Linked DNA regions of Homo sapiens: regions 2, 3 and 4 are each linked to region 1. The links come from fine-mapping of genetic effects on gene expression. A gene starts in region 1. Each other region holds a variant in brackets. All regions are shown on one strand. Distances are from middle to middle. Region 1 holds the start of TRIB2 (tribbles pseudokinase 2). Region 2 holds the start of MIR3681HG (MIR3681 host gene). Region 3 has its middle 110 kb from the start of TRIB2. Region 4 has its middle 37 kb from the start of TRIB2.

Region 1 (5,152 bases):
TGTGAGCCACCACACCCGGCCTTGAGTTTTTATTATAGGCAAGACATTGTGCCAGATGCTTTATACACATCTTCCATAATTGCTATACATTAAGACAAAATTTCTATTGTAATTTCACTTTATAGATTAAAATATTCCAAACTTGACCAAAGTCATATGGCTAAAAAGTGAATGAATAAAGATCCCCACCCAGATCTTCCTACTACATGCTTTTTTCTTTTCCAATTTGCTAAGAATTACCGAGTTAACAGACATAACAAATATTTAAGGCACTTGATACAAATTATCTAATTTATCCTGCACTGCAATAGCTCCGTGAATTTAATCAACAAACATAGCACTAAGCCATGAATTTGGCCTTCAAGGACAGGCAGGAGAATGGCCACTGTGTAATTTCATCACAAGTCATAAATTCACTATTAATCCTGTACAGCATCACTAGAGGTTTATACTATTTCTGCTCTCTCTTTCCTTGGAAGCCCAGTAGTATCTACTCCCTGTGATCTGCAGCAGGATCTAAATCCCACAAACGACCGTGTCACTTCCCAATGTCAGCCGTGCTTCGCCATCTCCTCTACTAGGAAGACCACTGTTGCTAGTTGTGTCTATCAACCCCTTCCCGATCTAATCCCAATCAGTCCACTTTGCCAGCCACATGCCTGGCCACTGCTCCCAGCTGCCACTGCTGGAACATGGTGCATTACTAGAAATTTCAGAACATCCCACTCCCTTGCTTTTCCACATTCCTTCCCTCTGCCTGAAATGCCAACAACAATCTCTTATTCATTTTATTTTATGACTCATAGGGCTATTTCAAGGTCCATGAAGACAGGAAATATATTTTTCAAATCATTGTATCTTCATATCCAGTGTCTGGCACATAGTAGGTTTCAATAAATATTTGCTCTGGATTAGTTCAAGGTAATAAAAATCACATTTTCTGGGAAAACTCCCTGACGTTCAGGAAAAGTCATTCCCTCCTCCATGCTCCCTTGAGGCCTTGATATTCTAATTGCCACATTGTTACACAATGACATTATTTGTTTCCCAGTCTTTCTGCCGGGCTAGACCCTGCGCTCTTGGGTGGCAGAGACCAGATCTTACTCATATTGGATCCCTAACACTCAGCACAGAGCCCGGCTTATAGTAAGCCTTCATAGATTTCCTGGAATTGAAAATATAATTCTAAAGCAACCACATGAGGTGAGCAGGGCGGGTATTATGCTTCTCATCTTACAGATGAAGAAACAGGGATCTAGGGAGAAAAAACAAGGTCTTCACCCAATTTCCATTTGAAATCAGAGACCCAGCCAGGGCTAGCACACAGGTGTCCCAACCCCTAATTATTACAAAGCTCTCTTGGCCACTGCATAGAGGAGGCTAGGCACCTCTCTTTCTGACTCAACAGCAGGGGTTGCTTCGAGACTGTTCCTAACACAGGCCAAGTGTCTTCCTGGGGTAAGACTGGATTAGGGGACCCTGCTCGGTCAGTGGTCCTGGTGATCGCCTAGGGAAATAGATCTATTCTGCTGGGATCTGGGACTGAATCCTAGGCAGGTTTGTGGGGAGTAGGATGGTGAGAGGTGCTGGAAGGCACGGGTCCACTTCTTAACCTTCCTTTTAACTCTGTGCTGCTGGGTGGAAGCTTTATAGTCAATGTCCTCTCCATCTCTGGCCACATTCCCAGGACTCCTGATCATTAGAGTGACTGTTGTCCCAAGTGGACATAATTATAAATAGCTCCCTTCTTTTACTGAAAGTGTCCTACAGTGGACAATAATTTAGTCCCCTCCTCCAGTGGAAAATATACTACACGCATGCAAAAGCTCAGAGGGCTCCAGGAGTCGTCCCAACTCCCCTTTCTCAGTTCCTTGGGATTTTTTTTTTTAAGTTTGTCCTCTACTAGATCGCTTCTCATTCACCAGGATATCTTAGATCAAGGCTGGCGTTTGAAGCCTCTGCCTGAGTTCAAGCCCCTTGCTTCCGGTGTTCCTGTCCAAGCCCGCGGACTGGAATCTCCCAAGGAAGTTACGAATAATTCGGGGGGGGTGGCGAAATGGGGGGTGGAGTGGGGCGTGAAACTGCAGCCTTCACCTGGCTAACAGAAGAGGACTCAGGACGCCCAGCACCCTGGATAGGACCCAACAGCGCTCCCTGGAGGTGTGGGTGCAAAGTTTTGTCTAGCTTGGCCTCCAAGGCCCTCCAGGCAATGCACTGGGAAGGGAAGAATTAGTGATTAAATTTGACCTGAATCAAAAGATGCCTTCAGTTCCTCTTCTGCTGAAAACACTAGAAATACAAGCCCAGGATGTGGGGATCGGGGGCAAGCGGTGACACCAACTAAAAGGAAGCAATGGATTTCCTTTTAAATGGAGAGGAGGATGTCGGAGAGATACCATGAAACGAATTCTCGAAACTCCAGGCAGCAATACCGATGAAAGCGCATTCTTCCAAAACAGAGCTCCTCATTCAGGGCCACATCTGAGCCTGGGGGCCCAATGCTCAGAGCGTGCCTGGCTTTCTGGGGAAAAGCGCCAGGAACATGAACGAGCTACGAAGAGCTGGAGCGGGCGCTGCGGGAGCAGCGTGTGGGGAACGGCTCGGGAGTCGCTGCTGGTAACCCCGGCCCAGCCGCCCGCAGCTGGGCTCGCAGCCGGCTCGCAGCCGACACCCAGGGTGCTGCGCCCGGGGCCCCGGGCCGCGGAAGGATATTTCACTTTGTTTACCTCCCCGGCCGGGCGAGGGAGCTGCGAGGCCGGTGCTGGCGCCCCCGGCACGGAGCTGCAATGGCAGCGGCGCGGGGAGCCGCCCGAGGACTGGCAGCGGCGGGGCTGATTGATGGGCGCCCGGCGCAATGAGGGGGGCCCGGGCGGGGGCGGGGCGGGGCCGGCTCTGGGCTGAGCCAGTCGCGGGGGCGGCGGGGGGGGGGCGGAGGCTCCGTGGAAATGTGTCGGTGACATTGAATGGGGAGACCGAGCGCGAGCGAGGCGCGCGCGCGCACACGCGCACTCACGGCCCCGCTCGCTCCGAGATCCCCGGCCACGTAAGTAACTATTAATACCGCCTCGCCGGGGGATGCGGGCGTGCTGAGCGCGGGGATTGGCCTCGGGCACCGTCGGCCGTCCCCTTTAATTTTTAAATACACGGTCCCCTCTTTTCTCTGGGGGGGGCAAGCAAGAAATCAAAGAAGGAGGAGACAAGCCGTCAATTTTCTCCAAAACAAACCCCACCGGGCAATTTGGTCTCGGGGTAGGGGGAGACGGGGTGATTGCAAATTATTCCAGGACGAGATCCAGTTCTCCAGCGGGAAAGGGGCAAAGGAACGCCGCGCGTTGGAAGGGCCAGGGACGCAGCTCCCCTTGCAGCGCCCGCAGGACCCCCGCAAGCTCGTGCCGGCGAAATCGGAGACCGCCGATCTGTCCTCGTTCTCTCCTGCACGTCTGGCTGCATTCGGAGGAAGACCTGGGGCGCGAGCGAGCGGCGACAGCATGAGCCTGTGCTGACCTCCGCGCGGCGGGCCGAGCCCAGGGCTTTGTCGCGGTACCTGCGCCCAGCCCGCGCCGCAACTCTGTGCCCAGCTTTTGCAATCTTTTGTTGGCAGCGCTGACCGCACCAAGTTAAATGCTCCCTTGCAATTTTTCTTTTTTTTGTTTGTTTGTTTAATTTTTGGAGAGCTCGCGATCTTGGAAAAGCCTCAGACGCCATCTACAGTTAAAACGTAGGTAACTGCCCTCTCCCGCACCCCCCCCTTACACGCCCCCCACCCTTTCCACCAAAAAAAGGGGGTGCAGCGCGGATTCTGGCTGCCGTGCGTCGCCAGCCGGTAGACCCGTGCTTGTTTCCTTTCTCTTTTTGTTTGGCTTCTAACGCGTTGGGACTGAGTCGCCGCCGTGAGCTCCCCGAAGACTGCACAAACTACCGCGGGCTCCTCCGCCCCGTCTGCGATTCGGAAGCCGGCCTGGGGGTCGCGTCGGGAGCCCTGGCGCTGCAGCTCCGCACCTTAGCAGCCCGGGTACTCATCCAGATCCACGCCGGGGACACACACACAGAGTAACTAAAAGTGCGGCGATTCTGCACATCGCCGACTGCTTTGGGGTAACAAAAAGACCCGAGTTGCCTGCCGACCGAGGACCCCCGGGAGCCGGGCTCGGAGCAGACGAGGTATCCGGCGGCGCCCATTTGGGGGCTTCTAACTCTTTCTCCACGCAGCCCCTCTTCTGTCCCCTCCCCTCTCGCTCCCTTTTAAAATCAGTGGCACCGAGGCGCCTGCAGCCGCACTCGCCAGCGACTCATCTCTCCAGCGGGTTTTTTTTTGTTTGTCGTGTGCGATCCTCACACTCATGAACATACACAGGTCTACCCCCATCACAATAGCGAGATATGGGAGATCGCGGAACAAAACCCAGGATTTCGAAGAGTTGTCGTCTATAAGGTCCGCGGAGCCCAGCCAGAGTTTCAGCCCGAACCTCGGCTCCCCGAGCCCGCCCGAGACTCCGAACTTGTCGCATTGCGTTTCTTGTATCGGGAAATACTTATTGTTGGAACCTCTGGAGGGAGACCACGTTTTTCGTGCCGTGCATCTGCACAGCGGAGAGGAGCTGGTGTGCAAGGTAAAGGGCCAGTGGGTTGCTTTTTGTCTTTGGAAGGGGCCCGAGGGAGCGGGAGGGCGCCAGGCCCTCGAGTCTGGGAGAGGGAGATTCGCGGGATAATTACCGTGGCCTTATTAAATGGGTTTATTTATTTATTTGCTCAGGTTCGGTAAGTTGCGAAGTTTTTAGACCGTTTCAGACAATGGGGCGGGCGGCAGTGGGGGCGTTTCGGGGAGAGCCCGGGGAGGAGAGGGCGGCGGGACTGCGCGGGGGCCACGGACACGCGTGCACCGAAGGCTCCAGGAGCTCTCTGCGCGAGGCCGGGTCCCGCTGCCCGGGGGGGATTTCTTCCTGTGTCTAGCCCCCTCCCCTTCCAACAAGGATTAGGGAATCCCCCGGTAATTTTAAGACTGATGACTTCGTTCTTTTCGCAGCCATTGTTCTTAGCAGCGGGCAGGTGTTAAACCTTTGTTCCGAAGGTGCCCTTTAAAACAGACACACAAAGGTGCCCCCTTCGGCTGAGCCCAGGGGCCCAGCGCAGGGAAGGAGTTTACAAAGACCTT
Region 2 (5,152 bases), 710 kb before region 1:
AACAGATTTTTGATAACTGTTTCTTAGAAAGAGTTGGAATGGGCTGGGCACAGTGGCTCACACTTGTAATCCCAGCACTTTGGGAGGCCGAGGCAGGCGGATCATTTGAGGTCAGGAGTTTGAGACCAGCTTGGCCAATGTGGTGAATCCTCAACTCTACTAAAAATACAAAAAAATTAGCCGGGCATGGTAGCACATGCCTGTAATCTCAGCTACTTGGGAGGCCGAGGCAGGAGAATCACTTGAACCTGGAAAGCGGAGGTTGCAGTGAGCCAAGATCGGGCCACTGCACTCCAGCCTGGGTGACAGAGTGAGACTCTGTCTCAAAAAAAAAAAAAAAAAAAAAAAAAGAGTTGGAACATCCCACTGCATGCAGCCTTGCGCATAGTTACAAAAACACCGCCAGAGTTATAATTTCTGGATGACAAGTCTATTTGGTTTCTGTGGTAAATTTAAGATTCCTGCAGAATCTTAAATGCAATATTAACAAAACTCATAACCACTGTCGACTTCTCATTATTAAAGTGTTATCTTTTAATTGTATAAAACTTGGAAACTGTATTTAATGTGGTGTCCATGATAGGACTGAATAGCAGAGACTTTGAGAAAAACATCCAGGTCAGACTGCTTTGGGATTATACTTTGGGGAATTTGGGATGAGACCGTAGGCTGGTGGATAGGGAAGGGGTTTGTCACTGAGCGAATGTTTCAGTCCTTGATGTAAACCTTAGAGAAGGAAATGAGGGCTCATGAGATGGACCTTACTCATGTTTTATAGGTAAATTCTTCTAGAACAAACTCCCTGGGGTTGGCAGTCAGCCTGGCCCTCATTGAGGCCTGGTGAAGCCTGATGTGGATTCGTAGTGAGTAACTTGCCACTGTCCCGTAGGGTCAGGATGGAAGCCAGGCACCTGGGACCTGGGCTGGGAAGGGATGCCCAGGTGAGTCTGGACCTGGGGAGCAATAATTGCAAATGATTCTGTCCACGTAATTTTCCGTCCATTGTCCCAGAATGCTCCATGTCTTTTGTATGTTACAATCTAGGTTTCTCGGTGGTGGTAGACGTGATGGTAGTGCTATTAGTGGTAACGATATTGACAATAATAAAACACTTTTAAAGTGCTTATGAATATTTCTGGTACTATTCTGAATACTAAATGATAATGTATTTTGTCCTCACAATGCCCTTGTGAATGAGGAACTAATATTTTCCTGATTTTACAGGTTAGAAAATGAAGGGACAGAGAGGTTTCCTTTTTTTTTGACTAATTTCCTTAGAAAGGAAGTATATTACTTTGCTAGGGCTGCCATAACAAAATACCACTGACTGGGCGGCTGCAACAACAGAAATTTATTTTCTTGCAGAAAGGCGGCTGACAGTCCAAGATCAAGGTGCCAGCAGGGCTGGTTTTTCCTGAGACCTACTTCCTTGGTTTGTAGATGGCCATCTTATTGCTGTGTCTTCACATGGTCTTGTCTCAGAGGCATGCATGTCTCCAGCCAAATGTCCTCTTCTTGTAAGGACACCAGCCCTATTGGACTAGGACCCCACACTTATAACCTTAACTAAGCCTGTAAAGGCTCTGTCTTCAAATACAGTCACATTAGGGGCTAGAACTTTGACATGTGAATTTCATATCATAAATACAGAGAAGTGCAATTTGGTGGTAATAGCTAAGATGAATAGGAATTCTGATATGATTTTGAGACACATTCTCACTTAAAGTCTCAGCATATAAATAAAGTTTAATCACCTTGAAGATCAGACAGCTTCTTAAATATAATGATCCATTCTCAATTACCTATTAGTGGGAGGCCACGATAATAGAGAACTGAATTCCAAATATAATTAAAAATATTCGTGTCACTGCTTAGATGCCATCTCTTTCTTTACCAAACTTAAAAAAAGAAAAGTCTCTCCCCTAGAGCTCTTAAACCACATGATTCAGCTACTAACCGAAGCTCACCCTTTTGGATTTCCCCTGCTGTACTGT[G/C]GTCGAGGTGCTAATTAGCAGGGAAAGTGCCAAATGGCAGGCAGCCAGAGGAAAAGCAGAGAAGCTGAAAGACCTGCACAAACTGCAGGTTTGTGAGTTGCAAAATTGAGATATGCCTCTAATGAGTTATGTATTAAAGCCCCTCTGCCCCATGACAGCAACGTCACCCTGGCAGAGACCTCCAGTTTCCTTACCTGGTAAACGGGGATTATAATAATACCACATTCCCAGGCTTGCAGGGTATTAGACCAAATCAGCTAAGAGCAGCAGACTAAGAAACTGGTCTTTATTGAGCATATATTTTATGTCAGACACTTGGCAACATGATTCATTTAATTCTCACATTGATTCTATAAGGTAGGCATGGCTAGCTCCATTTTGTGGATGGGTAAACTGAGGCTGGAGAAACTTGCCAAGTGTCACATACCAATTACACTTGAACCTCACTCCAAAGGCTTTGCTCCTTCTACTGACCCGTGTTGCAGAAATGCCTGGCCTTTTGTGAGCACTCGGTAAATGTCTGTCATTGTTGGAGAGAAAAGGAAAAAAATTATCTCCTTGCTATGAATTTAAACAATATATTTTAAAGCTGCTGGGAGCCTTTTTGTCCTGGTTTTCTGCATCTGATTTACCTGTCCCATTTTAACCATTCATGTGAACATTGTTATGTAACTAGCACATGCTTTTACTGTGTATAACTTAGTGTTACATAAATCTAAAGGCTGCTGACTGCTAGCAATCTTTTAAATGTAATGAGCTGAAAGATTTGCTTTGAGCCTTGGGGCAGGATAGCTTTGGCTTAACCATTTGCTGAGTTCAGCTTTTAGGAGGATAAGTTTACTGCATCCCTTCAATAATCCAACTGAAGCCTGGATTCCAAGCAACTGTAGATGAGATTTAAGTCTCCAAGAATGTTAGAAACTTAAATAAAACAAGGCTTAAGCAGAAAGTCCTCACAATGGTGTCCACATTCCATCAGGATGACGTAATCGAAGGTTGGAACCAGGCGGCCTCTGCCTTTGTGTTCCGGGACCCCTCACTCAGTGCAGAGGGAAATTGACACAGCCATGATGAGGCCTGGCTCACAAGAGCCATAGTTACTGTAGGAGTTTCTGTGGCTAAATATGCTTAGCTATTGGTGGGTTTCTCAGCTATGACAATGGTCTCCGTAAAAACACAGAACAAAAATTTTTGGTTAATTGAGGTCAAATTTTGTGTTAAAGGAGGGTTAATTTCCCTCCCCTCTAAGAGAAGAGTCTCTATGTGTTTAAAAACATGTTAACATTTAGTCTTGTCTGTTTTGTTGATCAGTTGAAGTCAGAGCAATAAAATCCCAGGGGTGGAAAGGGTGCAAAGGGCCATTGGGTTCATTTCCCTCATTTGGAAGCCAAACACATGCAGGTGATGATCACACTGTCCTTGAGCTGGGTGCAGAGATCAGCTCTGCCACATGCTGTTTGTTAATTTAATAAGATGAAGTGTGGGACCCAGGCTGAGTTCCTCAACACATTTTTTCATCTGTAAAATGGGGATTATAAAAAATAATAGTACCTACCTTAAAGGGCTAGGCACAGAGCCGTAGATGAGTTAACATGTGTTTTGAACAGATCTGGGTATACTGTGGTGTGAAACATTTGCAATTCTTCTTATATTACAGAGGCAAGGACATGTGCTGGATGTGTATGCAGTCTTTGAAGCTGGAGAGGCCTGTGTTGGAAACTGTGCTCTGTCCCATGCCAGTTCCCTGACCTTGGGTAAGTCACATAAAGTGTGAGTCTTTTATTTTTTTCTAGAGTGGAAATGGGGCTATGAATTCCTAACACTGGTAGGATTATAAGGAAAAGGACAAGATTAAAGTAAACAATACATTATAAGCATGGTGGCTAGCACATGGCTAGTCTTCTCAATGAATATTTTTTAGAAAATATAAAAAGGATGAATATCGGATATCTTAGTAACTCCTTTAGCTTTAAGCACACATCTCTACACACAGCCACATACAAACGTATTGGCTACACATTGGACTCCTTTTTTTTTTTTTTTTTTGAGACAGGGTCTTGCTCTGTTGCTGAGGCTGGAATGCAATGGCACAAACATGGCTCGCTGCAGCCATGACCTCCCGGGCTCCTGATTCTCCCACTTCAGTCTCCTGAGTAGCTGTGATGACAGGTGCATGCCACCACACCTGGCTAGTTTTTTAATTTTTTGTAGAGATAGGGTCTTGCCATGTTGCCCAGGCTGCACATTTAACTACTTTTACTTTTTCCTTCTTAACTTCTTGACATATGGTAGAGAACACAACCTAAAGTCACCAAATAGGTGAAAAATCTAGATTTCCTTTTTTTTTTTTAAATTTTGTTTTTGACCCATTTCCTTAGAAAGGAAGTATATTCGTTTGTTAGGGTGGCCATAACAAAATACTATAGACGGGGTGGATTCAACAACAGAAATTTATTTTTGGCTAAAAATCCAAGATCGAGGATTGCATCTTTCCAATTTCTGGCAGGGCTGGTTCCTGCTTGGTTTGTAGACAGCCATCTTATTGCTGTGTCTTCCCATGGTCTTGTCTTTGTGGGCATGCATGTCTGTACCCAAATCTCTTCTTATAAGGACATCAGTCCTAGCAGACTAGGACCCCACACTAATAACCTTCATTAACTCTGTGAAGGCCCTGTCTCCAAACACAGTCACATTGGGGGTTAAGGCTTTGACATATGAATTTTGGGGACATAATTCATTTCATAAAAGAAAGATATCACTTTCTGCTTCCTCATTCATGTTGACTCATTCAGAGAAAATTTGTGGTATATTTACCATCTGCAAGCCACAGAAAGGCCTCAGAAGAAACCGGCCGTGCTGACACTTTGATGGTGGACTTGTAGCCTCCAGAATTGTAAGAAAATACATTTTCTTTTGGTTTAATCCAACCAGTCTATGGTGCTTGTGGCAACACTAGAAAACGAATATACTCCTCTATCTGGATAATAAACACTATACTTAAAACATTTGAATATCTGCTGTGTTCCAAGCGGTTGATATTTTGAATATTTTTATAATATTTCTGAATCTGTTGATCCTATTATCTGCATTTCAAAGATGATCAGTTGAAATTTGAACCTCAAAGTCTTGCTGTATGTATTCTTTCATACTTTGATCAT
Region 3 (5,152 bases), 110 kb before region 1:
CTACACGACATGGTCTGAGTGTGTCCTGGTGAGGAGGCTGAACCGTCTGTGGAAATGAGACTGTTCAATGTTTCTGCAGCAACTGTAGTCAGCTCCTTTTCCTTCCTGTTTGGGGGAGTTTAATTGGATGCAGCTGGAGCATCCCCGCACTCTGAGTCTGAATTTGCTAAAGAAAGAGGGTGGGAAAGGCAGTTCTCACTGCATTCTGTCTGAACCTACAAAGCCACGGGAGACTCCAGAGATAAAATGATTCAAAATCTCACTAAAGTCACTGTGGGTGTTTTCCCAACTGCCAAGACCCAGCTACACAGAACTGAAGTCACTCTTTAAGAATGCATGCAGATTAAGTTTATCTCCATCTTGAAACATTGGGAATAAAAATTAATAATGATAATAGTAATAATTTATAGTATTACTTGCTTCCCTAAATATTTTCACTTATCAGTTGATTGACTAGCATTAATTTGTTCTGAAAATAAAACATTTTTAGAGTAGGGTACAAAAAAAGGATAGGTAGCATGGTGGGAAAAGCGCAATTTAGGTTCAAAATCCACTGCTGAGAGTTACCCATGTATGATCATAGGCAAGTCACTTAAAGCTTATCTGAATTTCTGTTTCGTCTGATTACAAACCAACATATATAAAAAGGCATCATAGACTGAAACAAGGTTGTAAAAGGGGTCATCAGATAGTAACAAAATGAGATAGTTTCATGTCTTTTTTCCTTTCTAAAAAACAGAGCAGGAGGTATATATCCACATGAGTGTGTTTATTTCCAGGATCTTCCTTCAAGAGGGAGGAAAACTTATTCCTATGGTGTAGTAATCCTAGGAACACTTATAGTTTCCAAATCGGGAAATGATATAAGGCTTGCTTATGAATCACTTGAATTTGTGTGACATGATTTTATCGTCACATCCTTTTGTGTTTATTCATTTTTATCCCCATTGATAAGTCACTTCACTTATTTACTTGCTTTTGTTTTGAATGATGTTTGGCTCTTTATAAAATCAAATTCATTCTCAAAGATTTAACATCAGTGAAGAAATTGCAACTCTTTTCCTCCCTACTTTTGATCAGTCTCTTACACATTTGTGAGCAATGACAGTGCAAAGGTTTTACCTTCCACAGGGGGGTGGTCTATAGAAGCGACAACTTGCATTAATTGGATGCCTAATGTTTACCATACTCTATGTTGGGTGTATCTTATACACATCCGATATTATCTTTTTAATAATATTGTGAGATAGACAATGTTATCTCATTTTAAAGATGACAACAATAAAGCTTGGATTTTTTAAACTTGTTTTTCACTTACCTGTTAAATAAGGAACTACAATTAGATCCTAATTCTCTCTGAGCCCAAGATCTGTTTTTTTCCTCCACAGGAGGCTTCTCCTTCACCATTTGCATATGCATACCAAATAACCAGTCTCATCACTTTACGGTCATATGATCTTCACTGATTAGTTCACTCAATATTTGTTGAGCACCTTCTTTGAATGTGGCTCTTCAGCAGGCCTGTGAGAGACTGAGGTCTCTGAGTCATAGTGACTTCCCAGGTTGCGTATCTCCAAAGTGCTGCATTTCCCCAGTGACTCAGGGTACCACAAAAGTGTCACCTATTTAATGATTGTTAGAACTTAATTTAATACAAAATTAATTCTTACATGCCACAGATCAATAATGCTTTGTCCTCAGAACAATCGTAATGGAATTTTAGCTGGACCCAGATAAAATCAAAAAGGAAAACCGAACTAGACCTCCCTGGTAATTATCATCCCAAATGCACCCATATGTATGTAATTCTGAAGAGTTGCATGAAAAACAAATATATATTGAATTATATTTGATTTTTGGCTTTTATTATAATATTGGAGATATAATTGTGTGGATCAAAAGTAATACAATTTATCTTTCACATGTTGACAAGATGGAAAAACAATACTGGGTTTACAATGCTACCTGAAAATAAAAAATTAAATGAACAAAAAATGTGAAAGAAAATGTGAAAGAAAGGATTTTCAAGACCCTAAACATTGGGCAATGAAAGACAGTGATCAATGCAAAACAGAAAACAAATGAAATAAATCCTGCGATTCTCTTACTACCTTGAGAGAGTCTGCAGACCATGATGCAGAGGGAGAACACCAAGGAAGAACCGGGTGGACTCCATGGATGAAGAAACAAAGCTGAGATTTCAGGGATACCAAGGAA[C/G]CTAGAGTTTGTGGAACAAAGTACTGAAGAGAAGAAAATCATATATAGAAAGAATCCTGGAGAAATGCAAGGGACCCTCTTACATTTTCAGCAGAATACTGACCAAGCCATGCACCAAGGCTGGGACCCTCTTACATTTTCAGCAGAATACTGACCAAGCCATGCACCAAGGCTGGAGCAAGAACCATCCAAAAGATGAAAAGAAAGAGTACTCAGCACTCATACAGGTCTGGAAATACTGCCTGTTTCCACCAACCAGATTGAAGAATCTCATTATTCCCTGGACATTGCGTAGAATACTCAGGAAAATCTTGCTTCAATAATGGAAAGTAATTAGCTCTAAAATGCTCTGGGTCTTCCTAACAAATGATAAAAGCAAGACTCTAAAGGGGCAAACTTTTCCCAAGTAAAAATGGCATCCTAGCATAAATCTCAAGAATATTATGATTTTTTAAAAAACCCAGCATTCAACAAGGTAAAATTTATAATATTGGGTATCAAATCAAAGATTCTGATCCAGAACTGACACATATGTTAGAATTAGCAAACAATGACATTCAAGCAGTCATTATACATGCAGTCCATATATTCATAGGCTTAAGTAAAGACATAGAAGATTATTTTTAAAAAAAGGCAAGTTGGCCAGGCGCAGTGGCTCACGCCTGTAATCCCAGCACTTTGGTCGGCCGAGGTGGGTGGATCACAAGGTCAGGAGATCGAGACCATCCTGGCCAACATCGTGAAACCCCGTCTCTACTAAAATACAAAAAAGTTAGCCGGGCCTGGTGGCGCGCACCTGTAGTCCCAGCTACTCGAGAGGCTGAGGCAGGAGAATGGCATGAACCCGGGAGGCGGAGCTTGCGGCGAGCCGAGATCGCGCCACTGCACTCCAGCCTGGGCAACAGAGCGAGACTCCGTCCCCCGCCCCCCACCCCCCCAAAAAAGAACACAGTTATTACGAGACAGAAACTTCAACAAGGGGGGCGGAGGTTGCAGTGAGCCCAGATCGCACCACTGCACTCCAGCCTGAGGACAGAGCAAGATCTCCGTCTCAAAAAAAAAAAAAAAAAGCAAATCGAACTTGTAGAAGGAACATGATAATGTGTGATATGAAAGTACTTTGGATAAGATTAATGTCAGACTAAAAAATTTGGAAGAAAGGATTAGTAAATTTAAAGAAATAGCAATATAAAAAATAAAATGAACCACTGAAAGAAGTCTAATTTAAAAAATTAAAATAAAAAAAGAATGTTAGTGACGTATAGGACTACTTTAAGCAGCTCAATATATAGTTTGAAGTCCCTTGAGTAGAAGGGGGAAAAAAAAGCAGAGGGAACAGAAAAGATATACAAAGACAAATTTGCCAAAACATTTTCAAAATTGATGAAATTACAAACCTATAAATCTAGGAAATGTGAAGAAAACTACACTGATGCATATTGTCACCAAATTGTGCAAAACCATCCATTAAGAGAAAAACCTTAAAACAGCCAGAAAAAAATAAGTTGCATTTTATACACAGGAACAAAGAAAAAAATGAAAGCATATTTCTTATCAGAAATAATACAAGCAAGAAGACAATGGAGCCAACAACATCTTTAAATTACTGATAGGAAAAATATTTTCCACCATAAATTCTATACTCAGCAAAAATATCTTTCAAAAGACAAAAAGGAAACAAAATGCTTTCAGAAATAAATGAGTAGAAAGCCTCATCACCAGCAGACACATACACTAAAAATGTTAAAAGGAGTCTTTTGGACAGAAGGAAAATAATGTCACATGCAAATATAAGTCTAGACAGAGGAATCAGTGGCCTAAAAATGACTACTACATGGGGAAGTATAAACTTTTTAGCATTTAAATCTCTTTACAAGATAATTGATTGTTAATAAAAATAATAGTATACATAATAACATGCGTAAGTAAAATATATAAAGTCTCAGACAGGAGAAATGAAAACATTTTGTTAAGGTTCTTATACCACATGTGAAGTAGTAAATATTATCTTTAGGTCAAATGTGATAAGTTAAATCTTAAAGCAGCCACTAAAATAACAAAACAATGAGTTATAGCTAAGCAGGCAGAAGAGATAAAATTGAATCCCCAAAAATGCACAATTAATCCAAACTAAAAGCAGAGAAAGAAGAAAATGGGAACAAAAAAACAGAATTTTTTTTAAATAGCAAGATGCTAGACTTGAACCTAACTATAGAAATAAGTGCCTTAAATTTAAATAGTTTAGAAAACTGCACTGAAAGACAGAAATTGTCATATTTTATGAAAAAAACATAGTAAGATATATGCTGCCTTTAAGAAAATACAGTTTAAATGTAAAAACATAAATAAGTTAAATGTGAAAGGATAGAAGAAGATATATCATGTTAACACTCCTCAAAATAAAGCTGTTTTGGCTATGTTAATACCAAAGTAGATTTTAGAGAAAATGATATTGCTAGAAATGACAAAAATAGTTTCATAATGATAATTATAAAATATATGAAAGTCCTCTATACTGAAAATTAAAACATTGCACAGATAAAGAGGATCTAAATAAGTAGAGAGATACACCTTGTTCATAGGTCAGAAGACTCAATATTATTAAAACATAAATTTGTTCCCAAATTACCCTGTAGATTCAAAGCAATCCAATCAAAACCCCCAAAAATATTTTAGTAGTAATCAACATATTGATTTCAAAATTCATATAAAACTGCAAAGGACCAATAATTGCCAAAACAAATTTTAAAAGCAGAATAAATTTGAAAGACTACCACTCCCTGAATTTAATACTTATTATAAAAATGCAGTTATCCAGACAGTGTGGTATTAGTGCAAATATACAGAAAGACAGATCAATAGAACAGAATAGGGACTTCAGAAATTGACCCCTATATATTTGGATAATGGATTTTCAGCATGCAAGAGCAGTTCA
Region 4 (5,152 bases), 37 kb before region 1:
TATAGGAAAGTGCTATCAAAATGTGAGTTAATATTACTCAGTGGATTTTTCTCATTATTGCTTCCCTTCCATTCCAAGAAATAGACACTACTGTCATTTGCCATTAATTAAGGAGGCCCTGGGTGTGTTTTCCAAGAATTGTTATGAGTTGTCTGTCATGCTCCAAAGTAGTCTGTGGCTCAAGAGTGAAAAAACCTTTTTTTCTGAAAGGTAGAGGTCATCTTCTCAGGCCACAACCAGGGCAAATGCTCCCAGATCCCTTCATTATAACAGGGAAAGAGTATGACAGTTGACATCAAAAGGCATGGATTTGTAGAACACCTCTGCCACTTAATGCAGATCTTCTTTCAGTGCTCAAGCGGGTCCTGCTGCAGGGCCTTTGCACTTGCTAGTCCCTTTACTCAAAATGGACTAAATTAACTCCAACTTTGCATGCCACTTCCCCAGAGAGGCTTTCCCTGGCCTCCAGTACTCACCAGGCCACTTGACTCCATGTTTGCAGTTACCTTGTGCACCTCTGCAATCCCAGCGACAGCTGTTACAAAATCACTTGCAGCCAATGGCTGTCTTTCCCAGTGCAATGTAAATTTGATGAGGTCAAGGGCAACCTCTGACTTTGCCAGCATCATAACCCAGTGCCCATTGTAACTACAACATCTTGAATGTAACAGGTGCTTATTAAATATTTTGACCGTAAGAGAGCACCAATTAGGTCCCCTTGAGAATGTCTAGAGCCCTCTGAAGCTTGGTTTCCATATATTTACTTCCTATTTGAATTATTATGGTGAGCACGTGGAATCTGCAAGCTCTTTAGTCATATAACGTTAACATCACAGCTAGGGAATAAGATGCCACAGCTTCTATACAAAGCATTTTAGAAGGTGAGACATGCATTCAAAGATACAAACAAATAGGCATGCATATCAAGGGCTGAATTAATTTGGAGTAAAAAAAATAAAGCCAGGAGAAAAAAGAAGACATATGCTAATGTTGAGGGCCCAAGAACTTCCAAGATGTATATAAAAATATCTTTGGAATTGTTGGAGGCCTTTCAGTATGAATCGGGTTACACTGGAGTTATAGTTGGAATTTGCCTATCCACTAAGTGGTGTTTCACATTGACCACGGAGATGAATTCTAGCTTACTGTAAATAGAATGAAGATATCTTTCTTGTTAAATTATTTATTGCACATTACATCTGGCCCCAAGCAATGACATTTTTAGGTTCCACAAAGGTAGCTGTGGATAGTCTATTGTCATTACATAAAGGAAACTCTGAGGGTTTATGTTATAAAATATAAACTATGTGATCATTAATCACCAAATAGCACAGGGGGTTACTCCATTGTGGCAGTGTGGGAGACTAGAAATAGATTGCTGTATCTTCTCTCAAACACCTGCCCAGATTTTTCATAAAGATCCACCAATCAATTTTTTTCAATTCTGTAGAATATGTGAAAAGCAAACTCTCCTCTCCTCTGCTTGTGAATCAGATTTTGCTTCCCAGTGCCTACAGAGAGAGAGACTCAGGCTCTAGAGGATCCCTCTAACTGGAGTGGAAATACAGCCTAGGCCCCTGATAGCTTCAAGTCATAAAAAATAGATTAGGAAAGCCTTTTGCATTGCCTCCCTCTAACCGCAATGGGGTTGGGATTGAGGGAGATACTAAATAGAGACACTCCTCATATACCTCTTTTTGTATAGATATAGATTTGTGATTTTTTTTATTTGAGAAGCCACCCTTTACCCCCAAATTTTTATTCATTTTCTTGCTTCTGTTTCCTTTGATCTTTTTCAATTTTTAGTTAAATGGTACGTTCATTCATGTAGTGATATATTAGGCAAACATTTATTAATCCCTATTATGAGCAAGGCACTGTACTAAATTTCCTGCACACGCAGGTGACCCTATCGGCCTTCCTTCAGTGTCCCCAGTTCCCCCACTCAGCCTGGGCACCGTACACACAGCCCCTGATCCTGAAAGCTTCCCCCCTTCCACTCTCCAGTGCCGTCATCCTTCAGATCTTAGCTCAGATGTTACTTGCTCAGGGAATCCATCTGGAACCTCAGGCTGGCTCCAGTCGCACTGGTACCTCACCTTCGACACCACAGTCTGAGCTCCCATTCTCTCTCTGCATAATTCCTCTTCAGAACCTTGCGGACATCCCACGAGAGCTGAGTCAAATCTGTCTGTCCTGCTAAGCTACGGGCTCCCAGTGGGCAAGTTCTAGGCTTGTCTTATTCATCATTATAAACCCTGTGCTTAGCATGATACCCAGCACGTGTACTTATAGATGAATGTATTTGCAGGATGAATGACCTGTTTACAAATAACCACAAAATTGACAGTGGCTTCTGTGGCCAAAGCTTGTTCCTCACTCACCACACAGGTGTATGACTCCCTTGGGCAGCACTCCACAAAGTAGCTGTCCTCTAGGTGGTTGCCAAGGGACCTCTGCTGTTTCTATTA[T/C]GTGCCTGCACCATTCCCACCATTTTCTGGCAGGAGCTGAGCTACTGTCATCAGCTGGCAGATGGAGAGCAGAGTGTGTTGGGAGGTCACCTCATCTGGAAGGGATGCATGTCATGCCATTCTCATCCAGGGTCCTTAGGCCAGGTTATTCGCACAACTAGCCCAGGGCAAGGACGGCTGGTCAATGGAGGGAGCTCCTTGTTATTAGTGAGCCTGGCTGGGCTCTGCCACAGGCACTGACAAGAGTGGTGAAGACCGTGACAGATAAAAGCATGGAGGTGTGCACAGAAGTTAAGCAAACGGCATAAATGGTGGCTCAGAGAGGGGACAACAAAAATTACATAGCTAAGGGTTTAAGAGGAGTGTATTAGTCCGTTTTCATGCTGCTGATAAAGACATATTTGAGACTGGGAAATTTACAAAAGAAAGAGGTTTAATTGGACTCACAGCTCCATATGGCTGAGGAGGCCTCACAATCATGGCAGAACACAAGGAGAAGCAAGTCACATCTTACATGGATGGCAGCAGGCAAAGAGAGAGCTTGAGCAGGGAAACTCCCCCTTATATTACCATCAGATCTCATGAGACTTATTCACTATCATGAGAACAGCATGAGAAAGACTTGCACCCATGATTCAGTTACCTCCCACTGGGTCCCTCTCACAACATGTGGAAATTCAAGATGAGATTTGGGTGGGGACACAGCAAAACCATATCAAGGAGCCATAAGAAATACCAGGGATACCTTTAAAGACGTTTGGTGTCTAAGGGACTATAATCTGGAGGAAAGAATGAACAAATCATTGAATAGGCAGATGAATGGATGAATGGCTGGGGAGCTTGGACGTTCCTTTAGAGGTTTGCAAGTTTGACTCGCCCTCTGGTCATCTCAGCATCCTGTTCTCCCTCCACACAGTCAATGAAGCAGCCACATTAGGAACCGCAGTGAAGAGAGAGCCCTGGGCACCAGCGGGGAGAGGTCAGCCCACTCCACTGAGCATCCTGTCCCTCTGGAGATGTTCTTTGAGACACTTCCCATGTTGCATTCCTTCACTTGTGGATTTAGACTCTCACCTTCCAGCCTGACAATAGGGACAGATGTGGGAAAAGAAATACATGTTCTCCCCAGTTGTAGAGCAAATGGCTTCTCAAAATGTGTGTATGGGCAGCACAATGGAATTTAAACTCCAAAGGGAAGTTGAAGCTCATAGAGACCAGCCCTTTCACAGGGGTGATGAAGACACAGAAGCCCCAAGAGGGCCCTGCCACCTGCTGGGAAGAGTAGAACCACCACTCGGTCTCTCACCAGCTGAAATGGATTCTAGGGAATCATACCTAGCCCTGTGAGAATGATCTAGGATGTGAGAAGATGCCACATGCTAGGGCAGATAAGGAAGGCTACATTTCACCAATGAAGGAAGCCGGATTAGAGATGCCAGGGTATTGGGCAAGGTGTAGGGGGTTTGCTGAAATTTTCTTTCTTTTTTTTTTTTTCTTTTGAGTCTTGCTCTGTCGCCAGGCTAGACCGCAATGGCGAGAGCTCAGCTCACTGCAACCTCCGCCTCCCGAGTTCAAGCTATTCTCCTGCCTCAGCCTCCCGAGTAGCTGGGACTACAGGCATGCACCACCACGCCCAGCTAATTTTTGTATTTTTAGTAGAGATGGGGTTTCACCATGTTGGCCAGGATGGTCTCAATCTCTTGTCCTCGTGATCCACCCACCTCGGCCTCCCAAAGTGCTGGGATTACAGGTGTGAGCCATCACACCTGGCAGAGCTGCAATTTTAATGGAGGTGTCAGAGGAGGCCTCAGGGCTTGCAGGTCATGAGGGGTTCACCATATGGGCAGTGGGGCAGAGTCTCTAGACAGTAAATGGGAAGGCCCAAAGGCAGGGGTGAGCCACATTGGGGAAGAGTAAACAAGACACAAAGGGAAGAGTCAAAATGGAAAAAACTGGACCACACAGAGCTTTGAAGGCTTCTGGAATGAGTTTAGTGTTCATCCCAGGTGGAACGCGTGCCATGGTGAGGCTGGGAGCAAGATGCGGCATGGAGATCCCAACTTGCGGTGTGAAAAGATCACTCTGGCTGGTATGTTGAGAGACACAGTGGGAGCTGAGAGTCAAAGCAGGGAGGCCCTTAGGAGGCTGCTTCAGTAATCCAGGCAGGAATCATGTATTAAAAAAAAGGAAAAATCAAAACTTACATTGCTCCAGGCACATGCCTCATGGACTGCAATAACAATGGGTTCTTCCCATAAAAACTGTGCAGAGTTGATATTTGAAAACCCCATTCCATTATTCTGATGGGAAAATGGAATTTGGGAATTAAGACCTTCCCCAGTGTCTCATACTGGAGCTCAGCTTCAAATCCTGACTCCGCAGCCTTGAGCACCTGCTGCACGCAGCACCCTGCAAGGCATGGAGGAGACTCCACCCTCCGGAGCTCCAGGCTAGCAGCTGATGAGATGGGGAGGGCCACATATGCAAAAGTCAAAGGACAAGAAGATGGGAGAAGCCAACCCTTCTGTGTCTAATGCATGCTCTGCTCCCTCAGAGCTTTTCCCCAGCCAATATACTTCTCAGGGAGGGACCCATAAGACACGAGGCAGGGCCTGGGAGTAATTTAAGGAAGGCATGGAGGAAAACCGGAAGAGTCAGAAGAAAATAACAACAACAGAAAC

What was found.
Region 2: its variant is fine-mapped to the expression of TRIB2 in whole blood (TOPMed, PIP above 0.99).
Region 3: its variant is fine-mapped to the expression of TRIB2 in whole blood (TOPMed, PIP 0.94).
Region 4: its variant is fine-mapped to the expression of TRIB2 in whole blood (TOPMed, PIP 0.95).

What each region holds. Positions count from the first base shown.
Region 1 is chr2:12,713,968-12,719,119 of GRCh38, forward strand. TRIB2 (tribbles pseudokinase 2) reads left to right here and starts at 2,969. Exons shown (of 3, transcript NM_021643.4): 1 at 2,969-4,610. The coding sequence starts at 4,341. It overlaps LOC124905974 (a long non-coding RNA gene), which reads right to left and starts at 2,791. Exons shown (of 2, transcript XR_007086222.1): 1 at 1-2,791. RefSeq lists silencers at 2,557-2,776, 2,867-2,926 and enhancers at 2,879-3,518, 3,367-3,436, 4,798-5,152.
Region 2 is chr2:12,004,096-12,009,247 of GRCh38, forward strand. It overlaps MIR3681HG (MIR3681 host gene), which reads left to right and starts at 3,021. Exons shown (of 6, transcript NR_110196.1): 1 at 3,021-3,132; 2 at 3,652-3,748. RefSeq lists enhancers at 2,250-2,299, 2,808-3,102, 4,534-4,583. The variant G/C (reference allele first, on the strand shown) is at 1,995.
Region 3 is chr2:12,606,660-12,611,811 of GRCh38, forward strand. No RefSeq gene overlaps it. Among named protein-coding and RNA genes, the nearest start is that of TRIB2, 110 kb to the right of the region's middle. RefSeq lists a silencer at 550-750. The variant C/G (reference allele first, on the strand shown) is at 2,218.
Region 4 is chr2:12,677,289-12,682,440 of GRCh38, forward strand. No RefSeq gene overlaps it. Among named protein-coding and RNA genes, the nearest start is that of TRIB2, 37 kb to the right of the region's middle. The variant T/C (reference allele first, on the strand shown) is at 2,472.